Regions from separate parts of the Homo sapiens genome. Here region 1 is linked to region 2. The links come from fine-mapping of genetic effects on gene expression. A gene starts in region 2. The other region holds a variant in brackets. All regions are shown on one strand. Distances are between the middles of the regions.

Region 1 (5,378 bases), 180 kb after region 2:
AATGTGGATAGATTGCAAGGGAATTTTCCTGAGAGACAAAAGCCAGTCTCAAAGGATTATATACTATATGATGCCATTTACAAAACGTTTTTGAAATGACAAAATTATAGAGATGGAAGACAGAAAGACAGATTAGTGGTTGACAGCGGTAGAGTGGAGGAGGGAGGGAGGAACTGTTCTGTACTTTGCTATAACAATGTTTATGTGGATCTAAGTATATGATAAAATTGCACAGAACTAATTACATGTACACACACACACACACACACACACGAGGGCACGTAAAACTGGTGAAATCTGAATACAGTTGGTGGATTGTTCCTGGCTGTGAAATTGTGCTATGGTTATACAAGATGTGAATCAGGAGCTCTCTGTATGAGTTCTTATAACTGCATGTGAATCTACATTTATATCAAAATTAAATGTAACCGCTAGGAGCGGGTGATGCTTATTGCTTTTCCAGATCCATTTATGTTGACGCAAGCAATATATGGGATCTCTTTTTAGTCCCACCCTCCTAGCTTTTGGCTAGCTCCTGGATGCCTAGAGGAGAGTTTGGACAATATAAAAAGGGATGGAAACAAGGAAGGAAATCTCTCCCAGAGAATTGTGACTGTGAGGTGTGTGTAGAGAAGTGTGGCTTGAAGCCAGCATTACACCCTTCTCTGAGCCTCATTGGCATTTCAAGTGGGGAGCCCACATTCCCTGGGCTGGGCTTGTGGCTTGTCTGATGAGCAGGGATTGTGCTCAACTAATTAAGGGTTTTTGGAGTACTAAATTAGACCAAGTGTCACTCAAAGACAGAAAGCAGCGATTGTGTGTCGTCATGCAGGGCTCAGTCACAAGGTCTCCTCCTAAGAAGTACCACCTCTGTGGGGCTGAGACTGAGGGAGACTGAGCCATCCTAAGCAAAGAGGAAAATTGTGACTTTAGAATGGATCATTTGGACCCCAAAGTGGAGTTAAGTACTTAATAAAGATTTGTTCTTGCCTAATGTTCTACTTGACTTTGGCCACGAACATCTTGGTCTATGTCTCTCAGTGTAATGAGCACAGGATAAGGTACTTAACACATATGCGTTGCTGGATTGTTAATAATACCCAAACGTTTCTTATTCAGACTGTGTCTCAGGCACTGTGTTAAGCCCATTCCAGGCCTTATTTATTCCACACAACCATCTCATTAAGTAGGTACCATTATTGCTCATATTTTGCATTTGAAGAAAATAAAATCCAAAAATATTACGTTTCCTTGCTTAGAGTCACACAACTGGTGAGCGATATGAAGCCAGGTTGCCCCACCCCCCACCCGTGTGCCTTGTCTTTCAATATGGACTCTCAGGATTATGTAGGTAGAGGAAGTGGTAGTATAAAGGGTGCGTGGTTTGGGAGAAAGTGGCTCAGTGACAGCAAGTACGGGGTTCTAGGAAGCCAAGTAGCTTTTGAGACATCAAAGTTTAGGATTTCCAGAACCCTTCCTGGTAATGTGCCTTTTCTCAGCTGCTCTGATCTCCCATCTCTCACTCCTGGCACAGCCCCCCGGGGTCCAAACACCTCACCAACACAGGTGCCTGCTTCTCCATGTGCACACGGAGAGGGCTGGACTGTCAGGTCCCTTACGTTTTCTGACTCTCTGAACATTACCAGGACTTCTGCCCTCAATTCACGCCTGATGGTGTTAGAATGAACCCCACACGGTGACCTGGACCAGCCTCTAGGTGGCTGCACAGTCCAAACTCATCAGGACACAGGCTGCATCTTCTCCTCCAGCCTCTCCCGGTCACTGGGCGATGACCTTGTTGCCTCGGACCTTCTCCATATTCTCTCAGTCTGCTGATTAGAAGCTTTTCCTTATATTCAATCAAAATCTCTCCCGCCTTAATGTAAAGTGCCTTCTGTAGGCACCAAGAACATCGAGGAACTTCTAGGACCTCTATCAACACAACTTCTTTTTAATTTAATTTTATTCATTCAACAAGTATTGAGTCTTACTATATGCCACATATTGGACCAGGCATCTGACTTGAACAAGTTGTTCAATTAACTTTCTCTTCTCTCTTTTTTTTTTTTTTTTTGAGACGAGTCTTGCTCTGTCGCCCAGGCTGGAGTGCAGTGGCGCGATCTCGACTCACTGCAAGCTCCACCTCCTGGTTCACGCCATTCTCCTGCCTCAGCCTCCCAAGCAGCTGGGACCACGCCCGCCACCACGCCGGGCTAATTTTTTTTTTTATGTATTTTTAGTAGAGACAGGGTTTCACTGTGTTTCCCAGGATAGTCTCGATCTCCTGACCTCATGATCCGCCCACCTTGGCCTCCCAAAGTGCTGGGATTACAGGCGTGAGCCACCGCGCCCGGCCAAACTTTCTCTTTTCTAGACAAAAACGATCGTCATTCCTTAAACCTTTCTTCTCTTTCCCTTCCCCGTTCCTTCTTTCCTCCCTCCTTTCTTTCCTTTTTTCCTTCTTTCTCACACACATACATATATTCACACATACACAGAGAAAAGTGCACTTACCTATTCATTTATTTTAAATATATAACCAATTTATACTTACTTTATAAAATCAGAAAATACAGGTAAGTAAAACAAAAGTAAAATATACTCAGAAGAGCTTTGCTCAAATAAAATACACGCACAGCATGTTTAAACCAGGTCTGGTGCACAGTGACCAAAAGTGGACTTATCCTTTGGTCTAATAAAGTGCAGCTGAAGGATTACTTTTTTATGGGCTAATGGAATTGGTTGAAAGATTTAAGGAGGTAGAGTAAATCATAATGGTATTCTGAGGCAATGAATATGTAGGACCTGTTCAATATTAGAAAGGTAGGCAACACTATCAATGTTAGAGGGCTGCCTGGCAGGGCAGGAACACTGTGGGTTCATTGTCAGGCAGCCTGGATTTGAGTCCGAGCCCGCTCTCTGTTAATTGGGTGCC[G/A]TTGGGCAAATTCCATGATTTCTCTGAGCCTCAGTCTCTTTACGTGTAAAATGGGGATAATGTTCATCTCTAACTCACAAGATTTGAAAGGGGCTAAAGGAGATAATGATGTAAACATGCTTTATAAACCACAGTAAACCAAATGCATGCAAGTTGTAAAAATAATCTCTTCTAATAATGTCTGATATCCCATTGGCTTTTCTACTGCTATTCTACGTCCAGCCAGTGAAAAAATAGTAACTCCAAGGGTCTTTTTTGCTCCCATATTTGTGTTTAGTAAATCATCCTCTATCCTGTGTTTACAATTTTGGATTTTTGTCTCCAAGTTAGAAAATTCTGATTTATTAAACTATTTTTCTAAATGATCGGGGTCATGTGAAAATTTATTCCAAATCTTCTAGGGCAATAACAATGCCACTTAATTCAACATCACCGCCAAATGTGGTGAATGCATCCTTAATTCCTCTCCCCAGGTGTTGCTCCATCTTTCAGCTTCTTTCCCTCCCTTCTCTTTCAAAATAATGATTCAGCCCTCTTTTTCTAAGAAGTCTGCATCAAAAAAGCAAAACAAATGCAACCTCACATTTTAGTCTCCTACCACTGTACACAAGTCTCACAGTCCCAGGAAAGTACACAAAAATGGGGTTTCTTATTTTCTATAAAGCCATGTCGTCTGATGTCCCACACTGATTATTTTCTGCCTTGATATTTTGAACAAGTAGTTTGAACTTTATCTGCAAAATTTAGGATGACAATAATACCTACACTTCAGAGTTGTTGTGAAAACTGAATAAGATCATGTATGCAAATGTGTTGGGCATATAGTAGCCATTCAGGAAATGTCAATTCCTCATACCACTGTGGTATTATGGTCCTCCCTCCACCATCAAATGCCTCTCTCAGTGTGCCTCTCTTGTAGGATCGTGGCCTTTCCACTTGATAATAATAATTTCTTGCCTTTCAAAACGTTTGTATACACAGCACTTTACAATTTACAAAGTGCTTTCTCTCCATTATCTCATTTGAGTCTCGTCACCACAGGGACACAGGCAATATTATCTCTCCTAGAGATAAGGAAATTGAGGCTCAGAGATTACGGAACCCATTCAGCTCCATGCAGGAATTAGGGAGGCATCTTTGTTTTGCAGGCACATTCCTTTCACCCTCTCCTTCCTTTTTGCAAATTGGGAAGCTGGAACTATTCTCCCTCACGGACAGAAGAAGGAATTTATAAACACACATTCCTTAACGTGCTATGATATTTCCTGTGGGTCACTGTGCCTGCCAATGCTCAAATCTAATCAGGAATTTTTCCAGACCAGGCCAGCTTGGCCTGACCATTTGGAAGTGTGGGGTCACTAGAACAAAAAATGGGACATGAAAAAAAGGTGAATACCAGTGATTGGAGAACTGCCTGATGATTCGGGGACAAAACAAATATTTTGTGGAAACCATCACGCAAGACAAGTCAAATCATTTTGGAGTCAATAACCTGGCACTCTCCTTCTGATGGCCTCAGAATTTGGGAAAGAAGTGGTACCGAGGAAGGAGGGTGGGCTTCAGGAGTTAGAGCCACTTGGTTCAAATCCCAGCTATGTAATTTATTGGCTATAGGGTTCTTAGTCCTTGATTTCTTCCTCTGTCAAATGGGGATAATAACAACTACTTCATAGGGGTCTTGTGAGAATTAAACAGCAAAGAAGACACTCGGGGCTTTAGGTCTTGGGTGTCTTGGGTCTTCCACCTACGGTGAGACACTGAAGAATTTACATAATCTCTAAGCTGTAATTTCCTCACCTGGAAAATAAGATAATAATAGTGACTCCTCAGAGTTGCACTGTGGGTTAAATAAGATGTAGCTAGAAGAAAATGAGAAACAAGACCTGGCCCAGAGAAAGATGGAAGAAGATATTAGCTCCAGAGCTGCTTTGGGTGTGGTCACTGGAGCGCGAGTCTTGCACTGTATTTGATTCCTGCCTGGGCCATGGACCAGCTGCATGATGGTGACTGCATCTCTTGCCTCAATTGCCTCCTCTTAAAATGGGGATAATAGTAACATGTGCCTTGTGGGTTTAGAAAGAGGATTAAATAAGATAATATATGTAAAACAGTTGGAACGGTACCCGGCACCTGGTAAGTGCTCTATAAATGTTCATTATTACTAGCGTTGAGGATTCCCATTTCCTTTCCCTTTCCTGGTGTCTGTGGGATTTTCTGCTCCTGTCTAGGCAAAGAGAGCCCGGACTGAAGGCCAAAGTGGCTAAGTCTCTGAATGCCGCTGGCCTGAGGCCTCTGGGCCCAGAGCTCTGGCCTGATTCCTTCAGGTGCCTCCTTATCCACAGCCTCCGCCTCTGGCCCTGCCTCTTCAGAGTGGGCCCAGGGGCCTGGGGGTCCCTATTTTAGAGCTGGCTTTGCGGTCAGGCAGCCGTAATCTGTCCCTCGA
Region 2 (5,378 bases):
CAGCAAAAAAAAAAAAGGCCGAGAGATGAATTCCTATAAACAAGATGTACTCACTCTGGCAAGGTCCTGGAGAAAGGTTTTGACACTGTCAGCCATCTCTTCACCACCAAACTATCAACTACACACAGGAGAGAGAAGTGTCCCCAAATCTCTCATCATGAAGGATCTGGAAACAGATGGAACATAATGGAGGCAAATATTTATTTTAAAGATAAGTTACTTCATGCACATTTCCACATGATGACCTCACATACTTGTAGCTCTAGTAAGATAGCAGTAGATTCTAGCACTAATAGAGTGAATCAAGTGAAGCTATTCCTGTACAGCTGAAACCTAAAATCCCTATTTTTTTTCTAAAACACTCACCACCCTTTCATTTTTACAAGGGGTTTTACATTTTACACCCTCTCATTTTTACATTTTACATTTTTACAATGTGCTCTTGACCAGTAACCTCCTCTGAGCCTCAATGCCCCTAACTATCCCTCCTACACATTCTAAGCACTTTTGAGGGTTTGGAGATGGAAGATAATTACATTTCAATATCTTCTTAAGCAATTTTTATGTTTGCTGGATACCTTCAAATACTTGAATGAAAATACAAGAGCAAGATAAAAGTTCTTACAAAAATTACTAAATACATGCTTCAGTCATACAGAGCCCTCGGGCACAGTAAAGTTTAAGGTATGACATGAAATTGCGTACCAAAACCTCCAAATAGGTCTTTTTTATTTTATTTTATTTTTTGAGACAGAGTCTCGCTCTTGTTGCCCAGGCTGGAGTGCAACACTGGGCTCGGCTCACTGCAACCTCCACCTCCCAGGTTCAAGTGATTCTCTTGCCTCAGCCTCCCGAGTAGCTGAGATTACAGGAACCCGCCACCACGCCCAGCTAATTTTGTGTATTTTTAGTAGAGATGGGGTTTCGCCATGTTGGCCAGGCTGATCTCAAACTCCTGATCTCAGGTGATCCATCCATCTCAGCCTCCCAAAGTGCTAGGATTACAGGCATGAGCCACCACGCCCGGCTGGTCTTTTCTGTTTTCTAACTTTAAATATATACAGATACAATTTTAATAAACATGCAATAAATAGTGGATTTTAAACTAGGCCTCAAAAAAGTTCATATGTATAAACAGTCTTTAAAACAGTAAGGCTTTCCCATTTTATTTCTCAGGTGAATGGGATATCTAGTTTCAAAAATTAAGAACTTGAGAGTTCATGTGAGAAATACTTGTAATTAATATACTATTCTCTCATTTAATCTGTGGTGACTTCTAAGATGAATAGAAAACCCACTTTCAGGCATTTTTTAAGAACCTGATATTCTAAAGTTCTCAACACTCACTCAATCAAGTTGCAGTATTCTCAGTTTAAGAGGTATGACCATAATACAAAGACAGAATTTCACAAGCAGCTTGTACAAACCTTAAATTTCAAAATATAAGCACACTTTCCCCGACCTTTAACCACTTCACCAAACTGCTCCTCATTGACCCAACTGGACTAATGCCATTCAGAACTGGAAGAGCAGGGGATATGGCAGTAGGAAGGCAATTTGCCCAACATTGTATATACCCTCTGCTCCTTAGGTCAAATCCTACACAGATAGGCTCACTTCGGATAGAAGTCTCTAGGGTAAGAAACTTCTGTTAATACTCCCACTGTTTCCTCCTGAAAACAAACACCTCAGAGTTCCAGTCGCGTAGGTACAGCCATACAGACATGTTCTCAGGGTTGAGGTGAGGGCAGCTGAGCTAGATAACTAGCAAAGGCTCAGTGATATGCACGACACTAGTTTGTAAAGACTCACAGATCCACTCCCGTAACCTGCCACTGGCTCATCTATAAATTAAGGGTACTAAACTTCTTCATAGGTTTCTTGCATCTAATAGGGCACAACAGCATGAAAAAAACTTAAAATTCTATATAAACACAACCCCACCAAAGTGAGCCAGCTTGGAGGTTTAAGGAAGCCCATTACTTGGCCTGGATTTCTCACAGGGAACTGACAGGGAACCTGAAACATTCTGTCTCAGTCCACAACAGCTGTGTCATTTGATCCCTGGCCAGCTAACACCTGGTTTCTGCATGTACCAAGTGGCAGGACACCTCCTAAGAGTGACCTATGAAGGATAAATCACTTCACTTTTATACTTAGATCCTAACATCCTTCCTACAGGAATATTTGGTGAATTACCCAGTCTGACAAATAGCTGAGGCATGGGGAAAAATAACCTGCCACAATTTGAGAACACACACACAGACTGAATGACACAGGGGGAATCCTACAGCTGAGCTAGACAGATGAAGATGCATCTGGCTCATTTAACAGGTGAGAGAACCCAGTCTCAGAAGTTAAATGACTTGCCCAGACTGACAGCAAATGAATGGCAGCTACAGTGAACCTCAGAACCCGGTGTTCTAACGTTACCTCGGTCGAGACTTGTTTTTACTTAAGCTTTGCAATGAAGATTTTTGTTTTAACACGAGCATCCCATGGACAAATAACCTCTCAAACCTGGAAATACAAATGCCATTAAATTCCCAACAGTCATTAGAAGCTAATAAGCATCTGCTGAGACACACTTTTATTTCTAAGTCACTAAACCCAAGTCTCGGCAAACAGGAAGCTGTCGTAGCCCACTCCAGGTACAGGGAAGGTAAACATCCTCACTTCCCACGGGGCTCCACGGGCTGCCTCTGAGTCCACGGGTCCATTCAGGCCCATCTCCCCACAGCTCCTAGGCAATTCGGCAGAAAACTGGTCTCCCTAGGCACAACTGTGCACGAGGTACGGATCACGCGAGGTGCGGATCACGCACGCTCCGGGTCACACAGGGAGCTAAAGATAGCTGCGCCGCACCTGGGGCAGCCTCGCCCGGGGATGTGCCCGGCCCCGTCCCGCTCCCTCCGGCCCCTTCCCATAAGGGGTCCTCGCCGGTAGCCCCACCAACCCACGCTCGGGCCCTGCCTGCCCTCCCGGTCCCTGCCACTCAGAATGGGCGGCGCGGCGGCCCCGAGGCCTAGCTCGGCTGAGCCCGCACCTACCCACAGCTCCGCCGCCGCGGCTCCGGCCCTGCCCCTAGCCCACCGCAGGCCAGCTCCGCCGGGGCGCTTCCAGGGCCGGGGCCGCTGCGCCCGCACTGGGCATGCCCGGGCCGCACGGGGCCGCTGGGAAGTCGGGCGAGCGCGAAGAACCAGCCGGCACCACGAGGCGGGGCCCAGAGCCGAAGGGGTGGGCCGCGCGGAGCGACGGAGACTGGGAAATGTAGTCAGTCCGGGGTCCCGCCTCGCGCTGCGTGCGGGATCGTCCGGCTCCCAACTCCGCCTGGCGGCGGAGAGGACCCCTCACCCCTCCGCGTCGCCTCCTCCCCGTCGCCTCCTCGCCGATCCCGTTCTCACAGATCTCTCCTCCTGTTCTTTGCCCTCCCCCATTGACTCCACAACGCTGCTTGCGTTTCTAAAATCCTGTGAAATTAGTAACAGGATGCCTTTAATCCCAGCATTTTGGGAGGCCAAGGCAGGCAGATCACGAGGTCAGGAGTTCAAGACCAGCCTGGCCAACATAGCGAAACCCCATCTCTACTAAAATAACAAAAATTAGCCAGGTGTGGTGGTACCTGCCTGTGGTCCCAGCTACTCAGGAGGCTGAGGCAGGAGAATTACTTGAACTCAGGGGATGAAGGTTGCAGTGAGCCGAGATCACACCACTGCACTCCTGCCTGGGCGACTGAGCAAGACTCAGTCTCAAAATAATAATAATAATAATAAATTTAAAAAATGAAATAAAATAAGTGGCTGGGCACGGTGGCTCATGCGTGTAACCTCAGCACTTTGGGAAGCTGAGGCGGGCAGATCACTTGAGGCCACCCTGGCCAAGATGGTGAAATCCCGTCTCTACTAAAAATACAAAAAATTAGCTGGGCATGGTGGCACACACCTGTGGTCCCAGCTACTTGGTCGGCTAAGGAATGAGAATCACTTCAATTCAGGAGGCAGAGGTTGCGGTGAGCCGAGATCGCACTACTGCACTTCAGCCTGGGTGACACAGCTAGACTGTCTCGAAAAATAAAATAAAATAAAACAAAACAAAACAATATAAAATAGAATAGAATAAGGAATCCATCTACTAAAGCTTAGAAATCTTGTTACAAAGAGACCTAAGTGGTTTAATGACAAACTGATTATTGTGCTATTAATTATAATAATAGCTCTTCCTCCAAGCTCTATTCTTTCTCAAGAGTGTCAATTTAGAAAAGATTTTAGAAAGAATTTAGTAGGTATGAGTTTATTCTGGCTTACTTCATGGGAGGAAATCTTTTTTTTTTTTTTTTTTTGAGACTGAGTCTGTCTTTGTCTCCCAGGCTGGAGTGCAGTGGTGCGATCTCGGCTCACTGCAAGCTCCGCCCCCTGGGTTCACGCCATTCTCCTGCCTCAGCCTCCTGAGTAGCTGGGACTACAGGCACCTGCCACCAAGCATGGCTAATTTTTTTGTATTTTTAGTAGAGACGGGGTTTCACCGTGTTAGCCAGGATGGTCTCGATCTCCTGACCTCGTGGTCCGCCCACCTACAGCCTCCCAAAGTGCTGGGATTACAGGCGTGAGCCACTGCGCCTGGCCGGGAGGAAATCTTTTAAATCTCAACATGTATAACCACATTTAAAATAAAAACCAATAATAATTAATACCTTGCATTTTTAAAGAGCTCTCACATGCTTATGTATGATTAGATGCTATTTGTGGACAAGTAGAGGATATTATTTTCCAAATTTCACAAATGAGGAAGTTTGTGGCAGAGCACTTTGAGAAGACATGACCTCCAGTTAAGCTGTGAACCTTAGTTTCTTTTTTTTTTTTTTTTTTTTTTTGAGACAGTGTCTCTCTATCTTGGCTCACTGCAAGCTCCACCTCCCGGGTTCACACCATTCTCCTGTCTCAGCCTCCCAAGTAGCTGGGACTACAGGTGCCCGCCACCACGCCCGGCTAATTTTTTGTATTTTTAGTAGAGACGGGGTTTCACCATGTTAGCCAGGATGGTCTCGATCTTCTGACCTCGTGATCCACCCGCCTTGGCCTCCCAAAGTGCTGGGATTACAGGTGTGAGCCAGCACGCCTGGCCCAAACCTTAGTTTCTTTAACACAGGCTGCTGAAATAAATGGTATATATATGAAGGTGTTTTTTAACTGTATGGATATATGATTTAGTGAAATGATAACAATACTAGATCTAGTGATAGCGACAGGAGACAGCCAAATGCCTAGGCAGTTAGTGGCGGGTCCCCATTGAAACCCCACCTCCAAGCCAAAAACAGTTTAAAGCTCGAAAGCCAAGCTACAAGTTAAGTCCTCAGACCAGATTGAGAACTTGTCTTCCTG

What was found. PIP is the estimated chance that this variant, and not a neighbour inherited with it, causes the effect.
Region 1: its variant is the best candidate, but not a certain one, in a credible set for the expression of EI24 in whole blood (INTERVAL, PIP 0.64).

Annotation. Positions count from the first base shown.
Region 1 is chr11:125,389,855-125,395,232 of GRCh38, reverse strand. All of the region lies in intron 6 of PKNOX2 (PBX/knotted 1 homeobox 2), which reads right to left. Among named protein-coding and RNA genes, the nearest start is that of FEZ1, 100 kb to the left of the region's middle. The variant G/A (reference allele first, on the strand shown) is at 2,936.
Region 2 is chr11:125,567,246-125,572,623 of GRCh38, reverse strand. EI24 (EI24 autophagy associated transmembrane protein) reads right to left here and starts at 3,147. Exons shown (of 11, transcript NM_004879.5): 1 at 3,051-3,147; 2 at 55-166. The coding sequence starts at 96. It overlaps STT3A-AS1 (STT3A antisense RNA 1), which reads left to right. Exons shown (of 4, transcript NR_132372.1): 3 at 2,182-2,334; 4 at 4,506-4,516. RefSeq lists enhancers at 2,430-2,479, 2,982-3,483 and a silencer at 2,920-3,479.